5 separate regions of the Homo sapiens genome follow, and all the other regions are reported to be linked to region 3. Evidence: microRNA targets listed by miRTarBase, many of them from high-throughput screens and not tested one by one. Region 3 holds a microRNA gene; each other region holds the end of a gene's coding sequence.

The links. Region 3 holds the annotated microRNA hsa-miR-1279 (UCAUAUUGCUUCUUUCU, at 3,423-3,439, shown strand). A microRNA usually pairs through its seed, bases 2 to 8, with sites in the 3' UTR of a target mRNA and lowers its output. Matches are read on the target gene's strand: a 7mer-m8 pairs with bases 2 to 8, a 7mer-A1 pairs with bases 2 to 7 and ends in A, and an 8mer does both.
Region 1: miRTarBase lists RNF222 as a target of hsa-miR-1279. Seed matches in the 3' UTR shown: 7mer-m8 at 3,644-3,650.
Region 2: the mRNA of SOX4 is a reported target of hsa-miR-1279. Seed matches in the 3' UTR shown: 7mer-m8 at 4,725-4,731.
Region 4: miRTarBase lists ZDHHC2 as a target of hsa-miR-1279. Seed matches in the 3' UTR shown: 7mer-A1 at 4,683-4,689 and 7mer-A1 at 6,164-6,170.
Region 5: miRTarBase lists PTPRM as a target of hsa-miR-1279. Seed matches in the 3' UTR shown: 7mer-m8 at 1,383-1,389.

The regions. Positions count from the first base shown.
Region 1 is chr17:8,388,638-8,394,870 of GRCh38, reverse strand. It overlaps RNF222 (ring finger protein 222), which reads left to right. Exons shown (of 3, transcript NM_001146684.3): 2 at 542-693; 3 at 1,385-4,169. The coding sequence starts at 1,410. The coding sequence ends at 2,072. Among named protein-coding and RNA genes, the nearest start is that of RNF222, 6.1 kb to the left of the region's middle.
Region 2 is chr6:21,593,710-21,599,942 of GRCh38, forward strand. SOX4 (SRY-box transcription factor 4) reads left to right here and starts at 42. Exons shown (of 1, transcript NM_003107.3): 1 at 42-4,910. The coding sequence starts at 826. The coding sequence ends at 2,250. RefSeq lists silencers at 653-832, 1,603-1,692, 1,743-1,792 and an enhancer at 2,603-2,802.
Region 3 is chr12:69,270,394-69,276,626 of GRCh38, reverse strand. MIR1279 (microRNA 1279) reads left to right here and starts at 3,409; the gene lies at 3,409-3,470. It overlaps CPSF6 (cleavage and polyadenylation specific factor 6), which reads right to left. Exons shown (of 10, transcript NM_007007.3): 10 at 2,269-6,233.
Region 4 is chr8:17,215,663-17,221,895 of GRCh38, forward strand. ZDHHC2 (zDHHC palmitoyltransferase 2) reads left to right here. Exons shown (of 13, transcript NM_016353.5): 12 at 1,510-1,584; 13 at 4,594-6,233. The coding sequence ends at 1,550. Among named protein-coding and RNA genes, the nearest start is that of CNOT7, 28 kb to the right of the region's middle.
Region 5 is chr18:8,404,868-8,411,100 of GRCh38, forward strand. PTPRM (protein tyrosine phosphatase receptor type M) reads left to right here. Exons shown (of 33, transcript NM_001105244.2): 33 at 1,242-1,989. The coding sequence ends at 1,295. Among named protein-coding and RNA genes, the nearest start is that of RAB12, 200 kb to the right of the region's middle. RefSeq lists an enhancer at 1,714-2,358.

The DNA.
Region 1 (6,233 bases), not on the chromosome of region 3:
CTTTTCAGTGCGGACACTTGGACCTCACCACACACCCCAGTGGATGTTTCCCTTCAAAGCCATCGACTTGGGAAGCCATGTAGTTAATCAAACAAATCTGCTCTCAGATTCTGTTTAAAACCCATCTTGTGGCCAGCGCCTTGGCTTGCGTCTGTAATCCCAGCACTTTGGGAGGCCAGCCGAGGCGGGCGGATCACCGGAGGTCAGGAGTTCAAGACCAGCCTGGCCAACATGGTGAAACTCTGTCTCTACTAAAATTACAAAAATTAGCCATGGGTGGTGGCATGCACCTGTAATGCCAGCTATTTGGGAGGCTGAGACAGGAGAATCTCTTGAACCCAGGAGGTGGAAGTTGCAGTGAGCTGAGGTTGCGCCACTGCACTCCTGACTGGGCGACAGAGCAAAACTCCCTCTCAAAAAAAAAAAAAAAAACAAACCATCTTGTTACTTTATATATCTTGTTACTTTATATCTTGCTACTCCATAGCTTTGATTTCAAACAATATCATGCCACTTGATCACTCATTTACTTTCCTATCAGACTTGGCTACCAGTGACTTCTGGGCATTTCCAAAGTATCAGACATATTCTCAAAGGATGAAATTCTGTCTCCATCACGGTTAATCAGATGCTTCTCTCACTGCCTCAGGCAGCCCCATAAGAAGAATTTGGAGAATGACTGAGCTGTGGCAGGTGAGGGAATGAACCTAAAGCTCCCTGACGTGACTATGTGGAGGGCCAGCAGGCATTTGAATGTGTAAGTTCTAAGCTTTGTTTTTTTAAACAGTCATTGCTTTATAGCCACACTTAGCACAGAGGAATGCAATCCAATGGCTGGAGGAAATCCAATGGACCCGCCAACCCCAGGTGAGGGCAGAGGTTGAGACTAGCACGGGCTTTTCTGGAAAATGGCCACTCTGGGTGCAGGTCCAAATTGGAGACTGGACTGGGGCTGTGCATGCATCTTCTTAGCCACCTGCTTCCCCTGGTAACAGGGACTTCCTTTCTTCACTTCCGTCACTGAAGCAGGAAGAGGTGAGGCAGTGACCTCACCATGTGTGTACATGATGATTGAGGTGAGACATCAGGAACTCCACACACCTCCTCCTGGGGTCCAGTGTGACTGGGTTCTCTGGTTCTCTGTCTCCCGATTCTCCCTTCCAGAAGCATCTGCTCCTCTCCTCCTAAGGGTCTGGGTTCTAGGTTTGAGTCAGGTGGGCCATAGAGGAGGAGCAGCAGAAGAGCCAAGAGTAGGAGGAAGAGAGAGGAGGCAGAAGACAGGGAGAGGGGATAAGGGGCAGTGGAGGCAGAGGTGTAGGTGGGAGTTAGGACGGGGGAGGGAAAGAGGAAATGCCCCAATATTCACAACCCTTCCCGTCCACAGCTGAGCGTGCCATCTCCCAGTGGCCATGTCAGAAGGGGAGAGCAAGGACAGCTCGGGCAGTGAGTGCCCCGTGTGCTATGAGAAGTTCCGGGACCTGGAGGGCGCCAGCCGGACGCTGAGCTGTGGCCATGTGTTCTGCCATGACTGCCTGGTCAAGTACCTGCTGTCCACCCGCGTGGATGGGCAGGTCCAGAGGACCCTGGTCTGCCCCATCTGCCGCTACGTCACATTCCTCAGCAAGAAGAGCTCCCGCTGGCCCTCCATGCTGGACAAGAGCTCCCAGACGCTGGCTGTGCCCGTGGGCCTGCCCTCCGTGCCCCCACTGGACAGCCTGGGCCACACAAACCCCCTGGCCGCCTCCTCCCCTGCCTGGAGGCCACCTCCAGGCCAGGCCAGGCCGCCAGGCAGCCCGGGCCAGAGCGCCCAGCTCCCCCTGGACCTGCTGCCCAGCCTGCCCCGGGAGTCACAGATCTTTGTCATCAGCCGCCACGGGATGCCCCTGGGGGAGCAGGACAGCGTGCTGCCCCGCCGCAGCCTGGCAGAGCTCTCGGAGGCCTCCCTGGCGCCCCGCTCCGCCCGCGCCTTCTGCTGCCGATCGCGGGCCCTGCTGCTCATCACGCTCATCGCTGTGGTGGCCGTGGTGGCCGCCATCCTGCCCTGGGTGCTGCTGGTGAGGAAGCAGGCGTGAGCCGCACCTCAGGGAGGCCGCCGGGCTAGCCGTGGCCTGGGGTGGGACAGGAGGCCCACGGCAGCCCTGGTGCCACCAAGCTCCGAGGGGCACGCGGGCAGGCAGAGGGGAGGACCTGGGCACAGAGAGGGCCTTGGGCTTCCCCGACCCCCGCAGGGGCTTCCGCTCGACAGAGAGGCTGGAGCTGACTCCATGCGCGCGGCGCGTGTTCCCCACGTGAATCCTCAGCAGATGCGTTCCCCTTCCTCTAGGCTGGGAAGATGGGTGGTCACTGCCCTCCTGCAGGCTCACCAGCCCTGAGCGGCAGACCTTACCTGCCAGGTGACCTGCCCAAAGCCAGGTGGGCCCCTCCAGGGACAAGAAAGTCCTGCAGGCAGACGTCCTGCTGGGCTGGCCGATGGCAGGATCCTCCAGGCCAGAATTCCCACCCAGGATTTGCGGCTTGCCCTCGGGAACAGACAGAAGGGGCGCCCAGAATCTCAGCACTCACCCCCGACCTCCACCACAGCACCCCATCCCCTAACCCTCCCTGTCCCCAACCTGCCAGCTTAGAAGGGCTTCCCTGAAGGAGAAGCTGATCTCAGAGGCTGCCCCAGAATTTCTGGGAGAATGAACAGAAACTGTTCTTCCTGCAGAGCTGAGGCCAGATCCAGAGACAGGGGTTGGTTGATAGAGGCCACCCCAGCAGAGTGCCCCACGAACGGAGCCAGAGGTCTCCCTGAGCCCTCCAGGCCAAAGGAGGGATCCAAACTTTGAGTCCTGGGGTTCTCAAGGGTGGCAGGGAGTGGAGGGGAAGCCTGACAGGCGAGCCTTGAGTCAGCTGAGAACTATGTGGGCAAACGAACCCCTGGGGGCTCCCGCCTCCCTCCCAGCTAGTCCTCCTCCTCATGACCCAGCCACTCATTTAGAGGCCACACCAGCTGGGCCAGTTTCCTAGGTGGATTGCCAGGCTGGGCTGGGTGAGGAAGGGTGGGGAGGAAAACAGCTGTGCTTGTCAGGGACGCCGCCATCTCAACCGAGAAATGCTGAGGCCCAGGTGCCCTCAGCTGCTCCTCAAGGTCTCTTTGCCTGGGGCCCCCACGTTGGACTGTGAAGAGCCTCAGGTTGGGTCTAGCCTGAGTCATTCGGGGATAGCTATTGGCTGTTTATTGAGGTCCGTAAGTCAACCAACACCTTTCAATGGAAAACAACAAAAACCTCCAGCAATTATCTCAACTAAGTGGTGGTCTGCACCCAGCTGTGCCCACAGCTGAGCCCCCAACCTCCCTCAACCTATACCCCTCTGGGCAATTTGCTGTCTTGGTGGGGAGGGAAGAAATAGCAGTCTACGTTTTATCTAGTTCCTAAATGCCTGCAGTGCTGGTCATTTGGGGACCGCTGGGGAATTGGGCCCCACTACAGGGGATATTTGGGACATAGAGAGGGCTGCTTTAAAAGCACTTGTGGGCTTCTCTGTGCTCATTTCAAGATTACAGAAGTGGCCAGGCACGGTGGCTCATGTCTGTAATCCCAGCACTTTGGGAGGCCGAGGTGGGTGGATCACAAGGTCAGGAGTTCGAGACCAGCCTGGCCAATATGGTGAAACCGCGTCTCTACTAAAAATACAAAAATTAGCCAGGAGTGGTGGCACGTGCCTGTAATCCCAGCTACCTGGGAGAGACAGAAGATTCGCTTGAACCCGGGAGGCGGAGGTTGCAGTGAGCCGAGATCGCGCCACTGCACTCCAGCCTGGGTGACAGAGCGAGACTCTGTCTAAAAAAAAAAAAAAATTACAGAAGAGCACAGGTGCTATTGGAGGGGAGGGATACAGATGGATTCCATGGGGAAAATATTTATTATAGGAATAAAAATAATGTTAAATTTGCAAAGACTCCAATGAGTCTCTTTTAACCTCAGCCAGGCTGTTTTAAACAGTGTCATGAATTTCTGGGAACCTGGTTCTAGTCTTTTCAGATTCTGTCGTATTTGCCAAAAGTTTCTTTCAACATACTCTCAGTGTTTTTGTATGTTCAATGGTGACCTGTAGCTGCAACTCCTTTTATTGTCAGAGAATGCCAAAAGCTATTTTTAAAATAAAGGTATATATTTTCTCAAAGATTCCAGAGACTCTGCAATTTATGTGGGAAGCTCCGAGCCTGGACTTGAAGGACAATTCACTTTAGGTGAAAAAGTTTGATGCGGTGTCTCACTCCTGTAATCCCAGCACTTTGGGAGGCCGAGGCAGGTGGATCACGAGGTCAGGAGTTCGAGACCAGCCTGGCCAGTATGGTGAAACCCCATCTCTACTAAAAATACAAAAAATTAGCCGGGCATGGTGGCGCACGCCTGTAATCCCAGCTACTCGGGAGGCTGAGGCAGGAGAATCGCTTGAACCTGGGAGGTGGATGTTGCAGTGAGCCGAGATCATGCCACTGCACTCCAGCTGGGTGACACAGCGAGACTCTGTCTCAAAAAAAAAAGAAAGAAAGAAAAGAAAGAAAGGAAAAGAAAAAGTTTGAAATGCAAACAGAAATGGCTCTTACACATCTATTCAACCACAGTTGCAAAAGAAATTAAAATTAAAATTTGGCTGGCATGCCATTTTTCACCTATGAGCTTGTCGAAACCTGGAAGCCTCATAACCCACTCCGCTACTGAAGCTGAGGGAGGCAGAGGAATGGTTAGTGGGAATGTGTATTATTAAAATCCCTATCAAGGGCAATGTGACATTATCTACCAAAATTTCTGCTTTGCTCCAGCAATTCCTGTTCTAGAAACATCCTACAGATATACTTGCATGTATGGGCAGCAGCATACATGTGATGCTATATAATTGCAGCATTGTTTATAAAAATAAAGGATTGGAAAAACCCTAAATGCTAATCAATAGGGTACTGGTTATCTATCTTAAGGTCCAGGGAATATCATGCAGCTGTAAAAGAAAAAAAAAAAAAGAACAAGAAAGGACTCAATAAACTTATATGGAATGTCTCCAAGGTACAATGGAAAATGAGGAAAAGCAAGGTGTGGAACACCGGATACTGGATACTACAATTTGTATAGAAAGAGCAGGAAATAGGCCAGGCACAATGTCTCACGCCTGTAATCCCAGCACTTTGGGAGGCCGAGGCGGGCGGATCACCTGAGGTCAGGAGTTCAAGACCAGCCTGGCCAACATGGTGAAACCCTGTCTCTACTAAAAATACAAAAATTAGTCGGGCTTGGTGGTACGTGCCCGTAATCCCAGCTAATAGGGAGGCTGAGGCAGGAGAATTGCTTGAACCCAGGAGGCGGAAGTTGCAGTGAGCTGAGATCGCACCGTTGCACTCCAGCCTGGGCGACAGAGCAAGACTCTGTCTCAAAAAAAAAGAAAAAGAAAGAAAGGGGGGGGAATAAGAATTTACATTCCTATTTGCTTACTTATGCATCAAAAAAGTGGGAATGCAGGGCACGGTGGTTCATGCCCAGCACTTTGGGAGGCCAAGGTGGGAGGATCACTTGAGGCCAGGAGTTCAAGACCAGCCTGGGCAACATAGTGAGACCCTATCTCTATTTTTTAAAAAAAATTGTAATTACCTTGTGGTGGCGCACCTCTGTAGCCCCAGCTACTCAGGGGGTTGAGGTGGGAGGGTCCCTTGAGCCCAGGAGGCTGCAGTGAGCTATGATTGCACCAGTGTACTCCAGCCTGAGCAACAGAGTAAGACCTTGATGACAGAAAGAAAAGAAAGACAAGAAGGGCAGAAGGGAGGGAGGGAGGGAGGGAGGGAGGAAGGAAGGAAGGAAGGAAGGAAGGAAGGAAGGAAGGAAGGAAGGAAGGAAGGAAGTTGGGAAGATGTACAAAACACTAATAATTCTGACTAGCCATGGAAAGGAATGAGAAAATGATGGAATGGGAAGGGGAGTTTTCACTTTACCTTTTTTTTTTTTTGAGACGGAGTCTTGCTCTGTCGCCCAGGCTGGAGTGCAGTGGCGCTATCTCGGCTCACTGCAAACTCCGCCTTCAGGGTTCACGCCATTCTCCTGCCTCAGCCTGCCGAGTGGCCGGGACTACAGGCACCCGCCACCAGGCCCAGCTAATTTTTTTGTATTTTTAGTAGAGACAGGATCTCACCGTGTTAGCCAGGATGGTCTTGATCTCCTGACCTTTTGATCCACCCACCTTGACCTCCCAAAGTGCTGGGA
Region 2 (6,233 bases), not on the chromosome of region 3:
ACTGTGAAAGGATAAAGAGGCGCGAGGCGGAATTGGGGTCTGCTCTAAGCTGCAGCAAGAGAAACTGTGTGTGAGGGGAAGAGGCCTGTTTCGCTGTCGGGTCTCTAGTTCTTGCACGCTCTTTAAGAGTCTGCACTGGAGGAACTCCTGCCATTACCAGCTCCCTTCTTGCAGAAGGGAGGGGGAAACATACATTTATTCATGCCAGTCTGTTGCATGCAGGCTTTTTGGCTTCCTACCTTGCAACAAAATAATTGCACCAACTCCTTAGTGCCGATTCCGCCCACAGAGAGTCCTGGAGCCACAGTCTTTTTTGCTTTGCATTGTAGGAGAGGGACTAAGTGCTAGAGACTATGTCGCTTTCCTGAGCTACCGAGAGCGCTCGTGAACTGGAATCAACTGCTTCAGGGAAAAAGAAAAAAAAAAAAAAAAGACTTGCCTGGGAGGCCGCGAGAAACTTGCATTGGAAGCTTCAGCAACCAGCATTCGAGAAACTCCTCTCTACTTTAGCACGGTCTCCAGACTCAGCCGAGAGACAGCAAACTGCAGCGCGGTGAGAGAGCGAGAGAGAGGGAGAGAGAGACTCTCCAGCCTGGGAACTATAACTCCTCTGCGAGAGGCGGAGAACTCCTTCCCCAAATCTTTTGGGGACTTTTCTCTCTTTACCCACCTCCGCCCCTGCGAGGAGTTGAGGGGCCAGTTCGGCCGCCGCGCGCGTCTTCCCGTTCGGCGTGTGCTTGGCCCGGGGAACCGGGAGGGCCCGGCGATCGCGCGGCGGCCGCCGCGAGGGTGTGAGCGCGCGTGGGCGCCCGCCGAGCCGAGGCCATGGTGCAGCAAACCAACAATGCCGAGAACACGGAAGCGCTGCTGGCCGGCGAGAGCTCGGACTCGGGCGCCGGCCTCGAGCTGGGAATCGCCTCCTCCCCCACGCCCGGCTCCACCGCCTCCACGGGCGGCAAGGCCGACGACCCGAGCTGGTGCAAGACCCCGAGTGGGCACATCAAGCGACCCATGAACGCCTTCATGGTGTGGTCGCAGATCGAGCGGCGCAAGATCATGGAGCAGTCGCCCGACATGCACAACGCCGAGATCTCCAAGCGGCTGGGCAAACGCTGGAAGCTGCTCAAAGACAGCGACAAGATCCCTTTCATTCGAGAGGCGGAGCGGCTGCGCCTCAAGCACATGGCTGACTACCCCGACTACAAGTACCGGCCCAGGAAGAAGGTGAAGTCCGGCAACGCCAACTCCAGCTCCTCGGCCGCCGCCTCCTCCAAGCCGGGGGAGAAGGGAGACAAGGTCGGTGGCAGTGGCGGGGGCGGCCATGGGGGCGGCGGCGGCGGCGGGAGCAGCAACGCGGGGGGAGGAGGCGGCGGTGCGAGTGGCGGCGGCGCCAACTCCAAACCGGCGCAGAAAAAGAGCTGCGGCTCCAAAGTGGCGGGCGGCGCGGGCGGTGGGGTTAGCAAACCGCACGCCAAGCTCATCCTGGCAGGCGGCGGCGGCGGCGGGAAAGCAGCGGCTGCCGCCGCCGCCTCCTTCGCCGCCGAACAGGCGGGGGCCGCCGCCCTGCTGCCCCTGGGCGCCGCCGCCGACCACCACTCGCTGTACAAGGCGCGGACTCCCAGCGCCTCGGCCTCCGCCTCCTCGGCAGCCTCGGCCTCCGCAGCGCTCGCGGCCCCGGGCAAGCACCTGGCGGAGAAGAAGGTGAAGCGCGTCTACCTGTTCGGCGGCCTGGGCACGTCGTCGTCGCCCGTGGGCGGCGTGGGCGCGGGAGCCGACCCCAGCGACCCCCTGGGCCTGTACGAGGAGGAGGGCGCGGGCTGCTCGCCCGACGCGCCCAGCCTGAGCGGCCGCAGCAGCGCCGCCTCGTCCCCCGCCGCCGGCCGCTCGCCCGCCGACCACCGCGGCTACGCCAGCCTGCGCGCCGCCTCGCCCGCCCCGTCCAGCGCGCCCTCGCACGCGTCCTCCTCGGCCTCGTCCCACTCCTCCTCTTCCTCCTCCTCGGGCTCCTCGTCCTCCGACGACGAGTTCGAAGACGACCTGCTCGACCTGAACCCCAGCTCAAACTTTGAGAGCATGTCCCTGGGCAGCTTCAGTTCGTCGTCGGCGCTCGACCGGGACCTGGATTTTAACTTCGAGCCCGGCTCCGGCTCGCACTTCGAGTTCCCGGACTACTGCACGCCCGAGGTGAGCGAGATGATCTCGGGAGACTGGCTCGAGTCCAGCATCTCCAACCTGGTTTTCACCTACTGAAGGGCGCGCAGGCAGGGAGAAGGGCCGGGGGGGGTAGGAGAGGAGAAAAAAAAAGTGAAAAAAAGAAACGAAAAGGACAGACGAAGAGTTTAAAGAGAAAAGGGAAAAAAGAAAGAAAAAGTAAGCAGGGCTGGCTTCGCCCGCGTTCTCGTCGTCGGATCAAGGAGCGCGGCGGCGTTTTGGACCCGCGCTCCCATCCCCCACCTTCCCGGGCCGGGGACCCACTCTGCCCAGCCGGAGGGACGCGGAGGAGGAAGAGGGTAGACAGGGGCGACCTGTGATTGTTGTTATTGATGTTGTTGTTGATGGCAAAAAAAAAAAAGCGACTTCGAGTTTGCTCCCCTTTGCTTGAAGAGACCCCCTCCCCCTTCCAACGAGCTTCCGGACTTGTCTGCACCCCCAGCAAGAAGGCGAGTTAGTTTTCTAGAGACTTGAAGGAGTCTCCCCCTTCCTGCATCACCACCTTGGTTTTGTTTTATTTTGCTTCTTGGTCAAGAAAGGAGGGGAGAACCCAGCGCACCCCTCCCCCCCTTTTTTTAAACGCGTGATGAAGACAGAAGGCTCCGGGGTGACGAATTTGGCCGATGGCAGATGTTTTGGGGGAACGCCGGGACTGAGAGACTCCACGCAGGCGAATTCCCGTTTGGGGCTTTTTTTTCCTCCCTCTTTTCCCCTTGCCCCCTCTGCAGCCGGAGGAGGAGATGTTGAGGGGAGGAGGCCAGCCAGTGTGACCGGCGCTAGGAAATGACCCGAGAACCCCGTTGGAAGCGCAGCAGCGGGAGCTAGGGGCGGGGGCGGAGGAGGACACGAACTGGAAGGGGGTTCACGGTCAAACTGAAATGGATTTGCACGTTGGGGAGCTGGCGGCGGCGGCTGCTGGGCCTCCGCCTTCTTTTCTACGTGAAATCAGTGAGGTGAGACTTCCCAGACCCCGGAGGCGTGGAGGAGAGGAGACTGTTTGATGTGGTACAGGGGCAGTCAGTGGAGGGCGAGTGGTTTCGGAAAAAAAAAAAGAAAAAAAGAAAAAAAAAGAAAAAAAAAAGATTTTTTTCTTCTCTTAATCGGAATCGTGATGGTGTTGGATTATTTCAATGGTGGGGTTAATATAGCATGTTATCCTGTCTATCTTTTAAAGATTTCTGTATAAGACTGTTGAGCAGTTTTTAAAATAGTGTAGGATAATATAAAAAGCAGATAGATGGCGCTATGTTTGATTCCTACAACGAAATTATCACCAGCTTTTTTTCATTCTTAACTCTTTAAAGGATTCAAACGCAACTCAAATCTGTGCTGGACTTTAAAAAAACAATTCAGGACCAAATTTTTTCTCAGTGTGTGTGTTTATTCCTTATAGGTGTAAATGAGAAGACGTGTTTTTTTCCTTCACCGATGCTCCATCCTCGTATTTCTTTTTCCTTGTAAATGTAATCAGATGCCATTTTATATGTGGACGTATTTATACTGGCCAAACATATTTTTTCTTTTGTCCCTTTTTTTCTTTCCTTTCTTTTTACTTCCTTTATTTCTTTATTCCTTCCTTTTCCTTTTTTTCTTTTTTTTTTCTTTTTTTTTTTTTTTTTTTGGTAGTTGTTGTTACCCACGCCATTTTACGTCTCCTTCACTGAAGGGCTAGAGTTTTAACTTTTAATTTTTTATATTTAAATGTAGACTTTTGACACTTTTAAAAAACAAAAAAAGACAAGAGAGATGAAAACGTTTGATTATTTTCTCAGTGTATTTTTGTAAAAAATATATAAAGGGGGTGTTAATCGGTGTAAATCGCTGTTTGGATTTCCTGATTTTATAACAGGGCGGCTGGTTAATATCTCACACAGTTTAAAAAATCAGCCCCTAATTTCTCCATGTTTACACTTCAATCTGCAGGCTTCTTAAAGTGACAGTATCCCTTAACCTGCCACCAGTGTCCACCCTCCGGCCCCCGTCTTGTAAAAAGGGGAGGAGAATTAGCCAAACACTGTAAGCTTTTAAGAAAAACAAAGTTTTAAACGAAATACTGCTCTGTCCAGAGGCTTTAAAACTGGTGCAATTACAGCAAAAAGGGATTCTGTAGCTTTAACTTGTAAACCACATCTTTTTTGCACTTTTTTTATAAGCAAAAACGTGCCGTTTAAACCACTGGATCTATCTAAATGCCGATTTGAGTTCGCGACACTATGTACTGCGTTTTTCATTCTTGTATTTGACTATTTAATCCTTTCTACTTGTCGCTAAATATAATTGTTTTAGTCTTATGGCATGATGATAGCATATGTGTTCAGGTTTATAGCTGTTGTGTTTAAAAATTGAAAAAAGTGGAAAACATCTTTGTACATTTAAGTCTGTATTATAATAAGCAAAAAGATTGTGTGTATGTATGTTTAATATAACATGACAGGCACTAGGACGTCTGCCTTTTTAAGGCAGTTCCGTTAAGGGTTTTTGTTTTTAAACTTTTTTTTGCCATCCATCCTGTGCAATATGCCGTGTAGAATATTTGTCTTAAAATTCAAGGCCACAAAAACAATGTTTGGGGGAAAAAAAAGAAAAAATCATGCCAGCTAATCATGTCAAGTTCACTGCCTGTCAGATTGTTGATATATACCTTCTGTAAATAACTTTTTTTGAGAAGGAAATAAAATCAGCTGGAACTGAACCCTAAATCTTGACTTTTGTCGTTATTATGCCCAATGCCTAAGATTGGAAAGGCCCTACAGTATCTGGACACTACACAATCTGCCTTAGCTTTAAAAAAATAAGTTCTCAGAGGAGTCTTGTCAAATGCTACCTTATCGAGGAACATTAAATGTCTCTTGGCCAGATTTCCTCTGACCCTGAAAATGATGGCATCAGCTGAATATGTGTCAACTCAACACATGCTTTCTAGGAATTTTCTGAGTTTACCATATTTAAAAACGCCCTTTGTCTTGGAATCTGAAAGAGGGGGAGGGGCAACGTGGACAGAATTCTTCACAGATGAAACTGGCTAGATGATCTTTTTTTCAAGTTGGTGCTCCTGGAGCTGCTTTCTCCTTGATTTGCCCATGCTTACCTCCAGCAGTGGCTGTAATTGGTTTTCGTGGGTTAAGGACAAATAAACTGTTATTATCAGTAGATTATACAGGAGGAGGCTTTTACCGATTATGAAATGCAAAACGTATGCATTTATGCATTTTTTTTCTCAAGCAGAAAGGTTGATGTGCTACAATCTTCATTTTTTGCCATGCCCAACATGGTGTTAATGTAAGAGAACTGCAGCAATAAGGATGACCTGGAGAAGCTGGCTGCATGTGGGCTCAGAGGAAAGCCCCCTCTCCAAATAGCACTTACTTTGGCTGCTGGAGATTTGTGCTTTTTCTAAGAATCAGGAAGGATTGTTGAGACTGCAAGGTGAAAAAGTACTTGGATTTCTTAAGGCCCATTACTCTTGGGTTTGGAACATACAACTTGCTAAGTGGCACTATTTCCTGTTTATTTTGAGAGTTAACAATTGCTATTAACTAACAAAAGCCATCTTCCAAATGTTAATTAAAAATGTGTCTTTTACTTGTCTTGAGTTTTTCAGCACTGGAGAGGAGGGGTTAACAAGCAGAAGTGTTTGGAAATTATCCCTTAGTCATTTGGATTGCTTGTAGATAAGGGAGTAGTATCCTGGAAGGTACATCTGGAAAAAGAGACCTTTTGAAGACTAGTCTAACAGGAGGGGGTTTTGTGGTTGTCCAACGAAAAGCAATAATGCACCCCCAAAAACCAGTATAACTTGTGTTTCAATATAATTTATCTCTTAAAGATAGCTACTAGTTTTCAACATTTTTTTCATGTGTGGTGCTCATATATTTAGTTTTAATTGCATTTGCGTTCTGCAATTGGAATTCCATTTTTTAAAATGACCTTAGAACAACATGGCATCTAAGTTTCTTCAAAGATCTTTGTAAAAGGAAGAACTCTTCTTTAGAAAAGTGCTTTTAATTTTTGTTCATTGCAGT
Region 3 (6,233 bases):
CTGCAGTGAGCCATGATCACACTACTGCGCTGCAGCCTGAATGACAGCAAGATCTTGTCTCAAAAAAAGAAAAACAAAAAAAGAATACTAACTGTCTTATAGGATAATTAAGAAACTAATGAAGCAATAGGTACAAAAACAATTTTTAAAAAATGTTGATGGTTGACCAGGCACAGTGGCTCACGCCTGTAATCCTAGCACTTTGGGAGGCAAAGCCAGACTCATCACTTGAGCCCAGAAGTTCGAGACCAGCTTGGCCAACGTGGTGAAAAACCGTCTCTACTAAAACTACAAAAAATAAATAAATAAATAAATAAATAAAAATAATAAAAAAAAATTGGCCGGGTGTGATGGCTCACACCTATAGTCTCAGCTACTCGGGATGCTGAGGCTGAAGAATCACTTGAACCTGGAAGGCACAGGTTGCAGTGAGCCAAGAATGCGCCACTGCACTCCAGCTTGGGTGAGAGAGCGAGACTGTCTCAAAAAATAAAATGTTAATAGCAATCCCCTAAAAAACAACAGGACAGCATCGGTGATTGTGTTCTTCAGCTGGGTTGACAACCGTTAAAGTGAAAACTGATGAAGACAATTACTGCCTTCTCCGTCCCATAGCTTGATCCATCTACCCTCTCCCAGGGGATGAATGTGTTACTAGATGGACTGCCACCATAAAAATGGGAGCCTTATCTTAGATAGCAAACCCTGACAATCTCACAGATAAACACTGTTACTTCTAAACTAAGCCATGCCCACACCACAATGCCCTCAATTTCTATTTCAAAGAAAACATAAGTCACTAAATATGACATCTTAAAATTTCTACCACACACCTACAGCCCACAAACTTCTATTTTTATCTACCCTTATCTTCTCTCCTGACAGGAAGAGGTGTTTCTCTTTTATCTATTCTTTTATCAATTTAATCTGCAGCCAAGAAGCTTTTTGAAATGTTGATTATGACACTTCACACAATTCAATGATTCCACATGACTCTTAGGACAATCTTTAATGTGACCTACAAGCTCCGGAGAGCCTAGCCTTGCCAACTGCTTGAGCTCCACACATAGGCTATGTTCTTCACTCCCTGCTTCAGCCAAACTGGCATTCTTTCAGTTCCTACTAGCATGCTCCTCTTGCCAAAAGCCCTTTTTGCAAGTCTCTGCCTAAAAGGTACTTCCCTTTCCCATTCACCATTTTTTTCCTACAGATCTCAGTATAACATTAAAGTAGTAAATTTCATTTTTTAAAGTTTTTCTATAAAATGAATATAGATTTTTGAAAGGTAAAGTATATATCATTTATCTGGAACTGACAATAGTTTATCAGAACTGATGTACCACACGAAAATCCAAGAACTGTTAATGAACTATAAATGGGAGAAAAAGACCAACAACATCATTGGAAATCATTTCTAATAATTATTGTTTCATGGTAATGGCTCTGAAACAAAACTAGGAAGACTGGGAAAAGTCTGTCCATAAATCTTTTGTAAAAAAAAAGCTTCTCTCTTTCACTAAATTAGGTCTTGAACTGAGTCATATGTAGTGTGGCATCTGGCCAAAAAATATTCCTAATGATCTTCTCTTAAAGTTAAATGACCTCACAGGGTAGGGACGAGAGTCTCAACTAATTCAACACAAATAGGGATTGATCAATGGAAACATACAACAAACAGTAACAGGAAATCTAACAAAAATCTGAACCACAATTTTAGTGGAGGCATGGAAAGGGATCCCAGTGATGGTAGTATTATTTCTCATGTTCATATTCACTTGTTTAGAACTGTTACCTTTAATACTCTGAAGCTTGCAGGTAAGAAATCTGAGGCCTGATATTAATACCTGGCACAGAAATATCTACTGAAATCACTGAAACTGAAGTCTGTTACTGTTTCAAAAGTACCCCATAATGTTTCCAAGCTAACCAGTAAAATATTTTTGCTACAAACATTTTTACTTAAGTCTAGTAAGGTTAATGATCCTCTAAAACTAGACAAATGCTTTCTGAATCTTCCATTTAAAAACCATGTAACAGCCTGGAAATCTGTCAGGCCTCTTAATCCTAATTTTAGCCCAATTATCAGTCGCTTTAAAGAGCACCAAAATGTCAATACACAAGAAAACCACCACTATCTGGCTTAAAGATAGAATACAGACAACAGTCCAATTTCTGCTATACTGCATATTGCCAATAAACATTAACTACTTAAAACCATACACAATGGTTACCAAATAACAAATTAAACAAAAAAGACAAACTGCAAAGTCTTATCAAAAGTTTGTTTTATTTTCAATACAAGATAAATACCATGCTTGTTACTAGTGCAGTTTAAGGCCGACAATGGCCATATATCAAACTGCCGAACAGTCACCTAAATGCTAAAGAAAGGAAAGACAAAGTAAACATTAAACACAAAATTGCAATTACAAACATTTTAATAAAATGGAATGAGCTTTTTAATTGAAGCTAATATGAAGTCTAATTCTCATGGACAGCAAAAAAAAAAAAAAAAAAGTCTATTAGATCAATTATCACCTTACCTTTTTGCACAGAAATCTTATTGTGAAGTCACCATAGAGTCAATAGCTAAAATTTTAAGACTTTCTTTGGCCTTCTGATATTAAACAAATTATTTACAAACTGTGATCAGTAATTCGTGGATATTGGTAAAATGATACAATTTTTTGTTGTTGTTGTTAAGGGCTTTCCATTAAAAATTGTAAAACAACTTTGTAAGGCTGTACAGGGCTGTAAACTACTTTGCTAATATACCATGGGATGCAGAGGAAGGAATAATAGACCTTTTTTTTAAGGCTAAAGTTATCAATGTTATAGATGCATTCCTTAAAATACATTATGATTTATACCCAAAGGATCCTTTCCCATTAAATACCACCTGAGTACTACAATTTTCAAAGTAAAAAAATAAACATGAATTCACCATAGTTATTTTAAAATAATTTAACTTACAGAATGTTGAGAAGTGTTACGCAGTAACAGTGCGACAAAAAGAACACACTTTCAAAACAAAATGTTTTCGCTAAATGCAGGGTCTGTCCAATTATGAAATTAATGTAAAACATTTACACCCATGGCAGAGTTTTAGGATACTCCCACGTGAAAAAAACTCTTGGTAGTATTTACTATGCAGTTACCACTTCAAGATGTGTGTGACTTCAATTAAATTCAACCTAGTATTTAAAAGACTCCATTACAATATGTTAATACAGCAGGAAGTCTTTAAAGACATTAAAATCTGTCGTATATAATCAAGTATTTATACGTCCCATACAAAAACCATAGTAGCTGCATACTCAGTGAATGCCACAACCTGAAATTCTAAAAAAAGAACATTGGTTAAGACAAACCTAAATCAATCTGAACAGTGTTGCCTGAATATTTAGAATATTCACAAAAATTCATATTGCTTCTTTCTAATGCCAAGAAAGAAGAGTATAAGAACTTCCTCCCAGAAGCCTAGACATTTTAATACATTTTCTATTTCAACTTACAATGAAACTTTAATCCTGAATCTTGATTTATCTAAATCAAAAATCTCACATTACGAACACAAGGAATGCCATATGTAAGGCCACATCTTAATAAATTTATAATTTTTGGTTGAATATTTATTGAAAAAATCAGTCTAAGGCTTCTAAGAGTCAAGTTGCTTAAAAAAATAAATACACCAGTGTTTAAACTGAAGTTAAGGTTAAAAAAACGCATACACACACACACACACACACACACACACTGTAAGAACAGAAAAATAGAATGCTTTGCTACAAAAATCCCACTTAATATATTTTAGCACAAAAATGTCTAATATACACTGGATAAGCGTGCATTTACGTACATACAACTAGGGGAAACATTTACAGAGGGCTACGGGATGCAAATGAACTTAATGAGTAATAAAAACCAGTTGTTATCTGTAAAACAGAGAATCTCAATACTGTATTCTCAGTCAAGAATTAGAACATAAACTTCCTCTTAAGCTGAAGCTTAAAACACAAAATTGGAGCCATTTTAGAAAATACAGAAAATGCAATGATCATTCAGGTATGAAAACCAAAATGTCGAGAGCACTCCAACAGAAAAGTCTTGTAATGCATCTCATTGTATAAAACAGTATGTATTTAGATTGGCACAGTTAAATACATAAGGGAAAGAGAAAGTCTTTGCCCTTTCCACAATTTTCCTTCACTATAAAATATTATACAACATTCATTAAAACCTCCATGTTTATTTTAATAACTGACCTGAAACTAGTAAAAAATAAAGCAATATTCTCCACAGGAGAATTAAATGAAAATAGTATCTTAAGCTACAAGTTATCTGTGTATTCCAAATTGTCATTAACTGCTTAAGAACATTCTAGGTAAAAGGACCATTAAATGGGCTAAACTATGATCAAAAGCCACTGCAACTTACTCCAAACCTTATGAAAAGTGACAAAAAAAAAAAACACACATCTGCAAATTTACACTGGAATATGCTTTCCACAACATAGTTCCTTTAACCAAAAGCAGCACTTTCAATCCAAAGTGTTGCCTCAGAAGCAGTACCATTCAGGTACTGTATCACTCATCTGTTTAACTTTACTACTGGCTGAAAGGAATGTGACTGTATAGCACTAATAAATGCTATGTTTTAAAATTCAACTCGTTTGTTTTCACATCCACTACAGTTATTAACTAAGGAAAAAATGAAAAGGTCTCTGAGACACTGTTTTTGGTGTCTATGCAAGGATTTATCTCTTTGGATTGTTTTTACACATTAAAAAAAGGAAGAGTTTTCAAATAACATTAACCCATAAACAACTGAAGGGGGTATGAAGAACAAAACAAGGCCTGCAATTTTCACCTTTACTGCTATACATTCACGTGTTATCAGGTAGAGAAGGACTTTGCAAAATTACTTGGTCAAACCAAGAAGTTATTTCCTTCTGACAACACTTAAAATAACGGATTAGCAGCAAACAAATCTAGTACACTCACACTGTCTGTAACGAAAGTCATGTAATGAGATCAGCCAAGCAAGGAGAAGAGTGATATAGAAGGAGCAATTAAAAGGTTCCATTGATAAAATATGAAAAGGTAAATAAAGGATTTAATTAGTATAAAATTTCCAGTTTCATTTCAAGTGCAGTTAGATTTTTGTGATTCCATTTTTAAACTGTTCAAAGAAAATTTTATTTTCATGGACATTTTACTTACCTTTTAACCCTTTACTATTAACTAATTTCTCTTGTAATATTTATATGTCCATACTTCTTCGCATTAGGGCATTGTAGTCAAAATATTAAAAAGCCAAGAAATGACACAACAATATACAGAAAACAGGAAAATTTTGATACAACTCTAAAATAATGTTAAAAAAGCAACCGCATTTTCAACAAAATGCTTTAAAAAATCATTTCTGAAAGTGAACAGTTCTGATAAACATCAACGATCCCATGCACAGATACTTCAAACACAAAATATTTTAAAATAAAACTGGCAGTGATATGGGTAATTCAAAACAGCTAATTTTGTCAGAAGTGGTTTGATAGCAGACAAGATGAAAGTGAAGAACAGCAGTGGAAATTTCTGGAGGGTTTCTACAGTTGCACATAACACAGTATCTAGGGTATTTTAACACTTTAAGCATTGTCCTAGAATTTGGGTACTCTTTAACAACCAATGTGTATTAACAGAAGATCTCTCAAAGATAATCAGATCTTAAAAACATATTAACGTGCTCAAGAATTTTAAGTCAAATTTCTGAAGTAGTGATTTCAAATTACATTCCCATAAAAACACCTAATCAAGTTGACACCCTGCCTCTGCCAATTTTGCAATCAAGAACACATGCTAGTCAGGTGCTTTTAAAGTGGGCCTATATGTAAGGCAGGTTTGAAAAAAATCTTTGATTAAGTAACTATAGCATGAATCAATACGGTGCATGAATATACATAGTATTCCTTAAACTGTGCAGACACGGTTTATCTGTAATTTCCCATTACAAATACTGGGGAATACAACCGAATGTTAATGAACATCACATCCTTCAAAAATTTATACCAATTGGAAAATATAAGGCTCTCTTTACTCACATTTACCTGCTGCAGGGCTGTATTTACACTGACTATGGCTTAAGAAATAAACCATAAGATCAATAAAAACAGCAAGTAATTGCAGCATCAAATCGGAATTGTCAAAATTTCTTCAATGTTAGCGGTTCACAAT
Region 4 (6,233 bases), not on the chromosome of region 3:
CAATCAAATCAGATAGAAGATAAATATCTACTGAAAAGGACCTTAAATTATTCAGTTCTATCTTTTACTCCAAGATTTCTGTCCAATTTCAAAATGTCTGAGTAAAGTTACTGTGTACCATAAGTTCAGCTGCCTGCGATTTCTTCATATCCCACTCACATTCCTCTTGTTACTGTTGTTGATTTCAATCTTTTGTTTTCTTCAGTCAGTGTAGTTTGTTAGCAAGGAACAAGCAAGGCTCCGAAGTCAGACCTGATTTAAAAACCCTAATTTGGGCTCCTAGTAGGGTGTGATATGTGTCACGTTACCTAACATCTTTTAGACTTAGCTTTGTTCTTTTCAAAAGACTACCTATTTCTCAATATTGATAAGGAGTAGACAAAATAGGGTGATCATACATGCATGTGTGTGTATATATGTGTGTTGTCCACATAAAGGAGTTAAAGCCATACATCTGTGATTAAGGCGTTATTAGCCAGAAAATCTTCAGATTGACTACTAACCTTTTCTCCTTCGTTTCTAGTCTTTTCAAATAAACCAGTCAACGTTTTAAAGTGTAATGAACCAAAGTCAGGTAGTACGAGAGTTTGAAGAAACCTCTGGGATTTAGTGGTAGCGAAAAACAAATGGATGATCCTGAGTAAATATTCTAGTCATTATTTAATATATTATCAGTCATCTTCTCCTAAAATAGAAGCTTTCTTTAGCCTTATCTTTAAGAAATATATTTGCCTCCCAGAGGGTCCCATTATTTGACTATTCATAATTTGGTCACTCTCTTGACCTTCACACATGCCATTTCACTTTCTAATCTATGGCAAGGACTAGGCATTGCCTAAACAAAAGTTGATGACACTGATTTGTTCTTTGAATCCATCATTTTCGTTAGAGGCAGAGAAGTGATAAATAGTTGGGGGTCAATTGTTGAGACGTGGAAAAACAAAGAATTCCTCTTCATCCAGAAGGGATTCACATTTCATCTTACATAATTTATGTTAAAATAGCAGTGGTTTCTTGATTTTCACATGCTATTATAATTCTTCGGCATGTTCGATTAATTTTTTTGTTAGTTGGATGAAATGAAGAACTACTTAAAGTGTAAAGGATGATGTATAGGAAGGAAAAGAAGCAAGAAAAATGAGGTGAGAAAGTGCTCAAAGATTGGTTTGACTAGAATGAGGTTGGTAGAGGAAGAATTTGGAAACGTTGATGTAAGCTGATGTGAGCAGTGTGGGTCAATATATCTTTCATTATTATGTTTCTCTACTTCCTCAGATGTCTATTTCTGTTTTTAGTGTTTTGTGTGTGTGGGAGAGAGATAGTGGTTGTAACTGACACTGTATAACGGGTGTGTGTGTGTTTCTATATCACCATCTTATATATACCCTTATTATGTACAAGGCACCTTTGGAAGTCTACCAAGGGATTCCTTATTCATAGATGAATAAGAAGTTTCTGCCTATTTGTTCAAAAGCAACCAAAAATGCTAACTTATGTGCTTTCATTAAGGTATGAGCAATCCTGCATTAACCATGGAAAATGAGACTTAACTCTTCAAGCAAGATAAATTCATACTTTATAAAAGTACGATAATTTTCCCTTTATTGTTTTATATTTTTAACAGTCTTCTAATTTTATTAGGGCAAATAGTTTCCATAAACATTTTTAATAATTTGTGAGTGATTCATATAGAAGATCTTTTACCTGACTTGTGAGATTGCATTAGCCATGCTGGGGCTTCTGAGTGCAGACCTAGCTTCAGTATTAGCTGGTATTTGTGTTAACTTGATTAATTATATAAATAAGTTGATGAACAAGAGTCATTTTATATTAATGCATTAAGTGGTAGGGATCAATCCTAAAATACTGAACTATATGTAAAAATTATCTTGTCATTTTATAGGAAGTTAGAATAATTATTTTTAATTTTTCTTCATCTTTCAGAATATACAGTGGTCATATCCTTGACCATCCATTAGGAAACTCTAAGTCGAAGTGCAATATAATTATATCTCATTAATGTACTCATTAGCACACTGTCATTCCCATTTTTGGGTCATAGTAGGGCCTTATAGCATGTGTTAACCTTAAAATAATAGGTGTTCCAAATCATTTTCTTTAAGCCTTATTTTTTTTTAAACCTGCAGTTCCAAATCAGTTTCTTTAAAATATGATCTGTTTGTAAGCCTGCAGTCAATAAAAAGCTACAATAAGGAACCCCTTTGGAACAAACAACTATATAATAAACAGTTTACCGAGCTGAATATTAAAGATAGCAAGATAACTCTCTCTTTACATAACGGCAATCTAGAATCCTAAAGTCTATGAAAAGCAAGAGATTCACTTGTAAAACAAAATGATTTGCATCAAAGTTCATGGATATCTGTTTTTATTTGTCTGTTCTGGTTTTGGTAAGTTAGCCATGTATTGTCAGCAAAATGCTGACCTGGCAATTTGCCAGCTGACTAGTATCTGATTTTGGGAAGAGCAGGATCAGCTCTGAATACCTGTTGCTACAGTAGGTCAGACTGACTATAACTGGTTAAAATAGTGAAAATTTCATCTGAATTTGATTAAATAGCAAAGACATTATTAAATTTCTGAAAATAATTTTAGAATGTAACTATGAATGTAATTTTAGAGTATAGCTATAGCAAATATGAGTCACTACCAGCCAATACCACAAATAAAATATACAGAACATAGTTCTGTAAGACATAGAATTTCACAGGATTTTTTTCAATATTTTGAAATCATCAGTTGCAATAACCATTGTTTTTAAGGTCAGTGCTATTAGGAATTTTTCTGTGTGTTAAGTGTTTTACATATTTACATGGTAATATTATATAAAAGCCATCGAGACTTCCCAGTATTTTGACAATACCAGTATTGTGGTTATTTATCTCCAACACCTTGCACAATGCCAGACACATAGTAGTTTCTCAACATTTGATGGATAAGTGACAAAATTAAAACATTGAAATTAAAAATCTGACAGAAACTTGATTTTATTAATTCAAATATGGCATGATTAGGCATAATCACAAAATGGCAGCATGAATCAGCGCTATAGATCTAAAAATACCCGATTTTCTGATGTCATGTTTTCTATTCTATCGATACAACCAGTTGCAGTAACATGTTTTGTTTTCTTAAACTTTCCCTAAAGTAGCTAATAGAAACTAGACTTTTAAAAATAATTTTTTCCTGCTTTACATCTCAGATTTGCAATTCATTCCAGTTGTATTTATATCAAATAATAGTTTGATACTGATGTGCCTAATTTATATTAAATATCTTCATATTGGCCGGGCGCGGTGGCTCACGCCTGGTAATCCCAGCACTTTGGGAGGCTGAGATGGGTGGATCACAATGTCAGGAGCTCAAGACCAGCCTAACCAACAAGGTGAAACCCCATCTCTACTAAAAATACAAAAATTAGACGGATGTGGTGTGGCGCACCTGTAATCCCACCTACTCAGGAGGCTGAGGCAGGAGAATTGCTTGAACCCAGAAGGCAGAGGTTGCAGTGAGCCAAAATCGTGCCATTGCACTCCAGCCTGGGAGCTTGGGTGACAGAGCAAGACTCTAAAAAAAAAAAAAAAAAAAAAAAAAACAGAAAAAAAACACTTCATATTTTTTCTCCTATTTTTGAACTACAATAGTAAATGATGTCACCTTTTTATAAAATATTTGTTTGTTCAGCAGTTTCCAGATGGTTATAATGTGCCTAAACCCATAGTTAGTACTAAAAAGTAAATTAAATTTAGCTTACCAACCTTTCCTATCATATGGTATAAATAAAAAATGCTGGCCAGGCGTGGTGGCTCACACTTGTAATTTCAGCACTTGCGGAGGCCAAGGCAAGCAGATTGCTTGAGCTAAGGAGTTGAAGACCAGCCTGAGCAACATGGTGAAACCCCGTCTCTACCAAAAATACAAAAAGAAAAAAAATTAGCTGGGTGTGGTGGCATGTGCCTGTGGTCCCAGCCACTCCAGAGGCTGAGGTGGGAGGATGAGAGGATGACTTGAGCCAGGGAGGCGGAATTTCCAGTAAGCTGAGATGGAGATCGCATCACTGCACTCCAGCCTGGGTGACAGAGTGAGGCCCTGTCTCAAAAAACAAAACAAAACAAAACAAAGCTGTGCTTCTATGCACATGAAGTTTCAAAATCATTTCCCTAAATGTCCTTCCTGACTCAGTTGCCACTCCTAAACTCCATTCAGCCTCAGATGAATGCAGAACTAACAACATAGAACCCTGCCACTCACATTGAAGCCCCAAACCAGCAACATTGTCATGACCTGGAAGATTAATAGAAATGCAGAATCTTAGGCCTTATCCTAGACCTACTGAATCAGAGTCTGCAATTTTTTTTTTTGCATTTTAATAGGATCCTTTCGTATATGCATATTAAAGTTTGAGCAGTATTGATGTAGAGTTCCATATTCAAGAGCACGTCTACTGAGCCTGCTAGCATAGTAAACAGTTTTGAATGAGGGATATTATTGAAACAGATTATGAAATGAGTTGGTTTGTTTTGCGTGTTTATGGTTAACATAGTAGTTTCATGTTTTCTGTTTCATTTCAAGGTATCAATGCTGTAGATGGATGGAAGAGGCTTCCCACAGGAAGGTGCCACCAGTCAGTTGTGCCTATGTCCCTTTGGCTGGAAATGCAGAATATGAATTGATTAGTTCTCTCCAAGCCATTGCTTAAAATATAACATGTTTTGGATCCAATACACACATTGTTACAACTAACACAAATTCCTATTAAATATTAAAAGTAGTTCTGGTTTATTAATCAACGGGGAAAACATCTTCTCCAAAAAACTTGGAATAAATCCAAGGACCAGTTTTTACCCAAATATATGGGTAGCACAGTTTATCACATAGAAACTCCATTAATCATCTGATTTTCCGAATCTGAAAATTGAGACTATTAAGATATTAGGATTTCAGAGATTTCAAGTCACATTATAATGATAAGCATTATTCATAAAACTTGTTACCTTTAAGAAGGTGGAAGTGGCAAACCATACTTCTTTTTTTTCCTCTGATGTGAATCCAGCCTCAGACTGAGTGAACTGTAATAATTATGAATTCATTACAGAGTCCAGGTGGCCTGCAGTTGAAGATCATCAACCATTTTTGCCTCACTTAATTCCAGCCTTTTGTTTTCTGCTGGAAAATAAGTGTGGACATTGAAGCTTGAGCTCTCAAAGCAGTTGGCTGGAATACTTTTGTCAGAATACGGTACATTTCTATTACATCAGAAATATATTTTCATCTCTTCTTGTTAAATTGGGAGGAAATTTATGATAGCAATTATGAAGATTGTTTTATGACATTCTTTTGTCAGTTTGGCTTTCTAAAAATCTCTTTTTAGATTATTTCTCCTGTTGAACATAGTAAAACTATTGAATTTCTCTTAAGAATTCCTAATAGGTCAATAGATTTACCCTCCAGTGATATCTATATTATTTCTTTCTCGTCTCATCAAAATGATGACAGGTAAACTATATTTTTCCTTAAACACCTATTACAGTTAAATTATGCAAATCATTAAATAAAAATCATACAACTTTTGGAAAGTTAGTTCAACATGAACTAAAATGGCATGCTATTTGGAAATTTAGTTTGAGATAAACTAAAGTGTGTTGATGCCAGAATGTTCAGCTTCAGTAAATATAATAAGCTCTTGTGCCTTGTATGCACTATTTAAAAAAAGTTTTTTTTATTTGAGTCCAGTATAATTCATGTAAATGTTAACAATTAGAATAATACTCTGTATGCTTTTTTGATACTGATTTTGAGAATTTAAAGCAGATTACCTTTTAAAACTGGACCAACTAAGTAATTGGTATTTAATCAAAGAGAAAATGGTAATAAACTTTTCAAAATCTTTGTTAAACCAAACATTCAACACAAAATAAACTAGAAGGCCAGAGGATAATGGAATAAAAGATCATTGCAATTACTTATCCTTCCTAAAAATATAGTTTTATATTAATTGTGCTTATGGAAGAAACAATGTCAGCCAAGTCCATTTTATAGTTTGAGTGCAATTCTTTGAACAATAGAAATATCTGCAGTCTTTCACAGATTTGTATTATGCTGAAGAGTTTCATCTGACAATCTGCTTCAAGAAATCTCAGAAAATATGATAACATTTTAACTTTCATTTTAGAGCACGTTTTGGTCATTTTTAAAAATACCTAAAGTGCCAG
Region 5 (6,233 bases), not on the chromosome of region 3:
TTGGTTCTATCAGCACACTCCATGCATACAGGTGCAGAATGCTCTCCCCGGCCACCCGAGACCACACCTCAGCCAGGACCTTGTGCAGAGCTTGCTTGGGCCAAGGTACACGATCCAGGAAAGCTGAGCTCAAGAAAAATGAATCCAATGCTGGATGTGGTGACTCGTGCCTATAATCCCAGCTAATTAGGAGGCTGAGGTGGGAGGATTGCCTGAGCCCAAGAGTTCGAGGCTGTGTTGAGCCATGATTGCACCACCGCACTCCAGCTTGGGTGACAAAGGGCCATGTTTCTTAAAAAGAAAAAAAAAAAAAAAAGAAAGGAGGGAGAAATTAATTCCCTGTCTGATGAAGAACTGGTCTATGGGTCCCAGAGGATCTCAAACATTTCCCCTTCTGTACCTTTCCTCGTCCTGTTGCCTCCGCCTGGAATGCCTGTTTTAATTAACGGGTGAGGATGGCCACGTACTTTATCCAAACTAGGGCACTTTGAGAGTGAAAGAGGGTTATGCCAGGACAACAGGCAGAAGCCAGGACCGTCCAGGGCAAACCAAGGCTGCCTCCACTCCACGCATCAGTTCCGTCCTCTGGGGAAGGCGCTGTCCACTTCCCACTGCCATCTTCCCTAAGAAGACCTGCCGTCCCCTGAGCATAGGGACCATTCCACCTCATGTGTTGTCATTGGGTTACCTGTCTCATCCTCCTCACTGGATCACGGACTTCTCAAAATCAGGGACCAGGTCAAGGGGCTTGGTATTCAGGAGGTGCTTATGAAATTCTCATGAGATTGAGGAATTCCCACAGACTGAAAGTCAAAGGTAAAGCTGGATCATGCATGAGGCCTCATCTAGGTACCAAGGGCCTTGTGAGAGATGTCAGGAAGGCATTTCCTGAAGCACTCGTTACTTTCTCTTCTACCCCTGACCCTCCTGCACAAAGCTCAGCATGTTGATATCCTGGAAAATACATGTGTGGACAAACATATTTAGAGTTCCAAGTGTCCAGAACCTTCCGGGAATTCTAGCCAGCACAGGTAGCAAAATACCTTCCACCCAGCATTGTGGGGAGCATCTCCAAACAGTGAATGTATCTGGAGTTCAGAACCGTGACTTTCTGATTCATTTCTAATTCAAATCCTCCCAGATTGATGTCTTCCCATTAAGACCCTACTCTATGGTAATTGCTTTACTAGGAACAGCGTTGAGATATTCTTGAGCTGACACTTTCCCCTCCTGTTTTCCAGGATCAGTACAAGTTCTGCTACGAGGTGGCCCTGGAATACTTGAATTCTGGCTGATGGTGTAAACAGCTCTGCAAACAATCCCTTTCATACCACAAAGCCAAGACGTTCCATGGTATTTGTGCAAAAGAGATGAAGACTTCTCAATATGCTTATTTTGCTTTGCATAATTGGCTCTTTTTAAGAGCCCAAGAAAGTGTTTCTAAAATTGCTTGCACTGCCCAATCCCAGTAATGCTGCTGCCTGACAGAAACACACACACAGCCACAGTTGCCAAATCCCGTACTCCTTGCCACCGGCTTCCTAGAGCAGCGTAGACAGCTGGTAAACTGAAGAGCACAACTATATTCTTATGAAGGAATTTGTACCTTTGGGGTATTATTTTGTGGCCCGTGACCCTCGTTATTGTTACAGCTGAGTGTATGTTTTTGTTCTGTGGAGAATGCTATCTGGCATTATGGTAATATATTATTTTAGGTAATATTTGTACTTTAACATGTTGCATAATATATGCTTATGTAGCTTTCCAGGACTAACAGATAAATGTGTAATGAACAAAGATATGTTGTATGAGTCGTCGTTTCTGTCAGATTTGTATTGTTTCCAAGGGAAAAGCTTGGGGGAGGACTCAGTTCACAAAATGCAAAACTCAACGATCAGATTCACGGACCCAGAGCTTTTCCATGTGTTTATATTGTAAATATTTTTGATTTCATCAAATTATTTATTCATTAAAAGAAATTTTTGTGAAGCACAGTGAGTGACAATCATTTTTCTTAAGGCCTGGAAACGATTTTCTGTATGATGTTACTTTATGTGAATTCTCATCTCAATAAATGATGACCCGTGAGCAGCCGTGGCATGTTCCTGGTGTCCCAGTGCACAGGCGGTGGAGGCCGCACCCGACACGCCAGCACACAGGGGGAGAGAGTGCGGCCGGGGCCTGTTTGCCGGAGCAAGTAGAGTAGAGTTTTTTTGAGAGAGAGTGTTCGTCAGTGAGAGCACTGAGCCCTTCACGGTGGCCTGCCCTGGTGCCGGGGAGGCTCAGCCATGAGCCTGCACCATGGGGCGTGAGCCCTGACCTTGTGGGGCAGCCAGGCCAGGGGCCATGGCAGAGACTTGCTAACTGGAGCATCGTCTTCCTTTCTCTGTTTCCCCTCAGTCTGCGGGGGATAATATCTCTCTTCTCTATGCCTCAGGCCAACCTAAGACTTGCTGAGAGAACAGTTTTTAAAGGGTTAGAGAATCAGAGTGCATTGAAGGACACCGAGCTGAACAAGTTCCCACCAGAGCACCTGCTCTGCGCCACCCTGGGCTCTGGCCGCTGACACAGAAGGCAGGTGCACGGTGGCCTTGCAGCTTGCATTTAGCTTGGGTTTTAGGCTGTGTTAACGATTGCCAAGAGCTGACAGAGGCAAAGCTCTGTCGAACACCTCTTGTGAACCAGATACCATGCAGAGCATCTTCCTGTGTGGTAGCACGTGCTCCCCAAACATGAGCCAGGTACAACTGCGAAACCCACCTGACAGATGAAGAAACTCAAGCTAGAAAAGATTAAATAACCCGTCCAAAGTCACACTGGCTAGCAAGTGCCAGAAGCCTCCAGAGCCCATGGGAGGTGGAAGGGCAGCACCCTCACCATGGCAGAGGAGCAGAGTCTGCTAGTGCCGAGACAGAGACTGGCCCGCCACCCGCTGTGGGAAGTGGAGAGGCTTGAGGGCACTGTTCCTGCCTGCTCTGGGGATCTTGGTGACCAAAGACTTCAAGGGCAGAGGTTGCCCTCCAAGAGGACTGACCTGGACATCTGCGTGTTAGACCTTTACTGCTTCGCTGTACCCTGAGCAATCTATATGCCCCGATTGGTGTAAGTTTCTCTAGACCCCTCCTTAAACTGGGTGGGTGGGACCCTGTCCTCCCCCAGGAAGAGCTGGCTGCAGCGGAGCTTCGAGTCTGTACTCAATGCCTCACATTCAGACTCCTCCTGGAGGATGGCCCCTCGCCATCCCACCCAGTTCTCTTTGCTAAGCTCCTAAGAGACTAGCAGGCTGCTATTTTTGTCTGTCCCTCTTCCAAATGATTTCTCCAGGATATAGGAATAGGGATGAAGACATATGGACCGCTGCACCCTTTGCGGGTGAGCTGGGCCCTGACCAGGGGAGTGTGGTGAAGCCCTTGGCCCTCCGTGATCATGGCGGCGTGGCTCTGGGCTCCAGTCCGTCAGCATGGGTGAAAAGACGGCTCATCTGAGCATGGCGAGGAAGTGACCTCAGATGTGTGAGTCTAATGACACCGCCACTTCCCAGTCATTCCCTGCGTCGTCATACCCCGGTCTCACATGGGAGCCAGTTGTTTTCAATCTCTTGGATTTTTATCTTTCTTTCACTTATTTCACCTTTTAGCGGAAACAGTGATAGAAAAAAAAAGGCACAGGCATTTTGTGGCTTTTTCAGATTTCCCACGAGGCCTCACAGCATGGTTGAGACCTGTTATTTCCAGTACACTGAGAAAGTCTCTGCCCCTCGCAAGCAAGAGAAGCCACCCTCTTGGCTGAGAGTCCTTCTCTGTCTTCTCGCAGTGCTCTGGGTTCCCCTCTGTTGTGGCATCCGGAACCCCCCAGACACTTCAAAGCCTGTGACTGCTCTGGAAGCTGATGGTCCTGCCCCTGGCACGGTCCCCCTCTAAGTCAGCTTCACAGCAGCACCTCATGATGCTTTTGTAACGTGTCAGCACAGCAAGACTGAGGTGTGTTTCCAGAATTCCATTCTCTGTATATTTCCAGATGGGGTGCGCTGCAGGGGTCATTTGGTGTAAGACGTAGAGGCAGAAGGGAAACAGCAGCCACATTGTTTTTACACTCAGAAAGTGGAGCAGCTGTGGGCCCCGCAGGTGAATAACAATGGTGTGAGCTCCTCCACCTCTCTCCTAAGGGCCCTCCTAGCCTCTGCTCACTGGGTCAAAACTCATGCCTGCATTTTTAGGTTTTGTTAAGGTATCCTAGTGCCAGGACTAAAACGTGCATTAGTTACCTTCTGCTGAATAACAAATTGTCCCCAAAGTTGGAAACTTAACAATGAACATTTATTATCTCATACCATTTCTGTGGGTCAGAAGTTCAGAAATGATTTAGTTGGATGATTCTGGCTCAAAGATCGCTCGTGAGGTGGCCATCAAAATGGGTCAGGGCCGCAGTCATCTGAGAGCTTGACTGGAGCTGGAAATAAACTTCTAAGGTAGCTCAGTCACAGGCCTGGCAAAGTGCAACTGGCTGTTGATGGGAGGCCCCAGTTTCCCCCCATGTGGGCCTTTCCACAGCTGCTTAACTGTCCCCACAGCATGGCACTGGCTTCTTCCAGGGATTCAGAATGGAACAAGGCAGAAGCCACAATTTCTTGTATGATCTGGCCTTGGAAATTATATACTGTCATTGCCACAATATCCTATAGTTTCAAAAGTCAGTCCTATTCACTATGTGAGGGGACTGCACAAATACCAGGGCGTGGGGATCATTGGAGCCATCTGGGAGGTTGGCCACCACCTGCTGGCCAGCTGCAGACCTCCCACATCAGCCAGCACCTCAGCATCTGCAGGCTGGTTGGCTGGAGCTTAGCAAATCTCATCCCTGGAACATGTGGCTTGCCAGTCAAGGCTCCTCCCATATACCATCCCCTCTGTCCTACTATGCGTTTTCATCCTAACACCTTCTACTGCGACAGTGCTCCAAGTCGTTTGTAGTATGCCCTAAGGAAACATTATTCCATTGTAAATAAACTTGATTAACACAGGCTTGATTAACGAGGCTGTCTTTCCCCGAACTCCACGGAAATGCTCCCTCTGAAACTTTCTCAAATAGAGGTAAGTCATTCTTTCATGTCTCAAAGATTTAATCAATTTCAACAACCACCCTCATACTCCACTTGAGCTGATGGTCACACCCTGCAGCCTGTCACCTTGAACTGCCTGACCTCTGAAATCTTGAATAAACATGCCACATTCTGACTCCAGCCTCTTCAACTGCTAGCTTTATCTTTGCCTTATTCTTTTATTCTTGTTCTTTGTATTTATGAAAACCTTCAGCCCAATCCTGAGTGCTGCACCCTTTCTTACCTTTTCCACAGAACAACCCAAGCCCCATGATGTATCACTTCAACCAGTTTTGCTAACACCCTCTCAATGCCCTTGACACTTCATACTTCCATCATATCCACTCTACAAATGGTTAATTTTAGAGAAACTCTTCCAGGACTTTTGATCTCAGACAAACTAGGGTAACAAAAACCAATCTACCCTCCTAAGTGTAAGAAATAACTGGGAAATATATATATTTTTAAAAATGGTGTGCAAGATACTGGACATCAGGCAATGAAGGATAACAATCTCCAAGAAACAGGAAACAAATTAGGTGACCCCTAGGATTGCCCTAGCTTATGGCCTGAGAGAACTTCTAGAACATGGGTGCAGGGAGGGGGGATCCAGGTGGAGCCACATGGTTTCTCTTATTTGAGGAGATAAGGCTGAAAGTCAAAAAGGCCAAAGTGGCAAAGATCTGCAGGGCAGAGTATGAGACATAGAGCTACGTAGAGAAAGAGTTCTGAAGATCTCAGAATGTCCCCCTCAAGTCTTTAGCTAAGTACTGATCACAACAACCTTGTAAGGACATTACAAAGAAAAAAAAAAACCTGAAAAGATTAGAAGGAACAATACTCAGAGTTCACACAGGCCAGAATAGTTCCTGTTTCCATTGAATAGAGCACTCATGTTTTTGACTCTGTAGTGGGGCAAAACTATCTCTGGTCTAAGCACAGCTGTGGGCCTGCCTAACAAAGCAATAACTGAGGCATCCAACTGTTTCCAAGTAACTTAATTGCACCTCAGAACAAAACTCAAGAACATTTACAGGAATACAAAAATATCCAGCACCCAAGAAAGTAAAATTCACAATGTCTGGCGTCCAATCCAAACTTACTAGGCACACAAAGAATCAGGAAAACATGACAT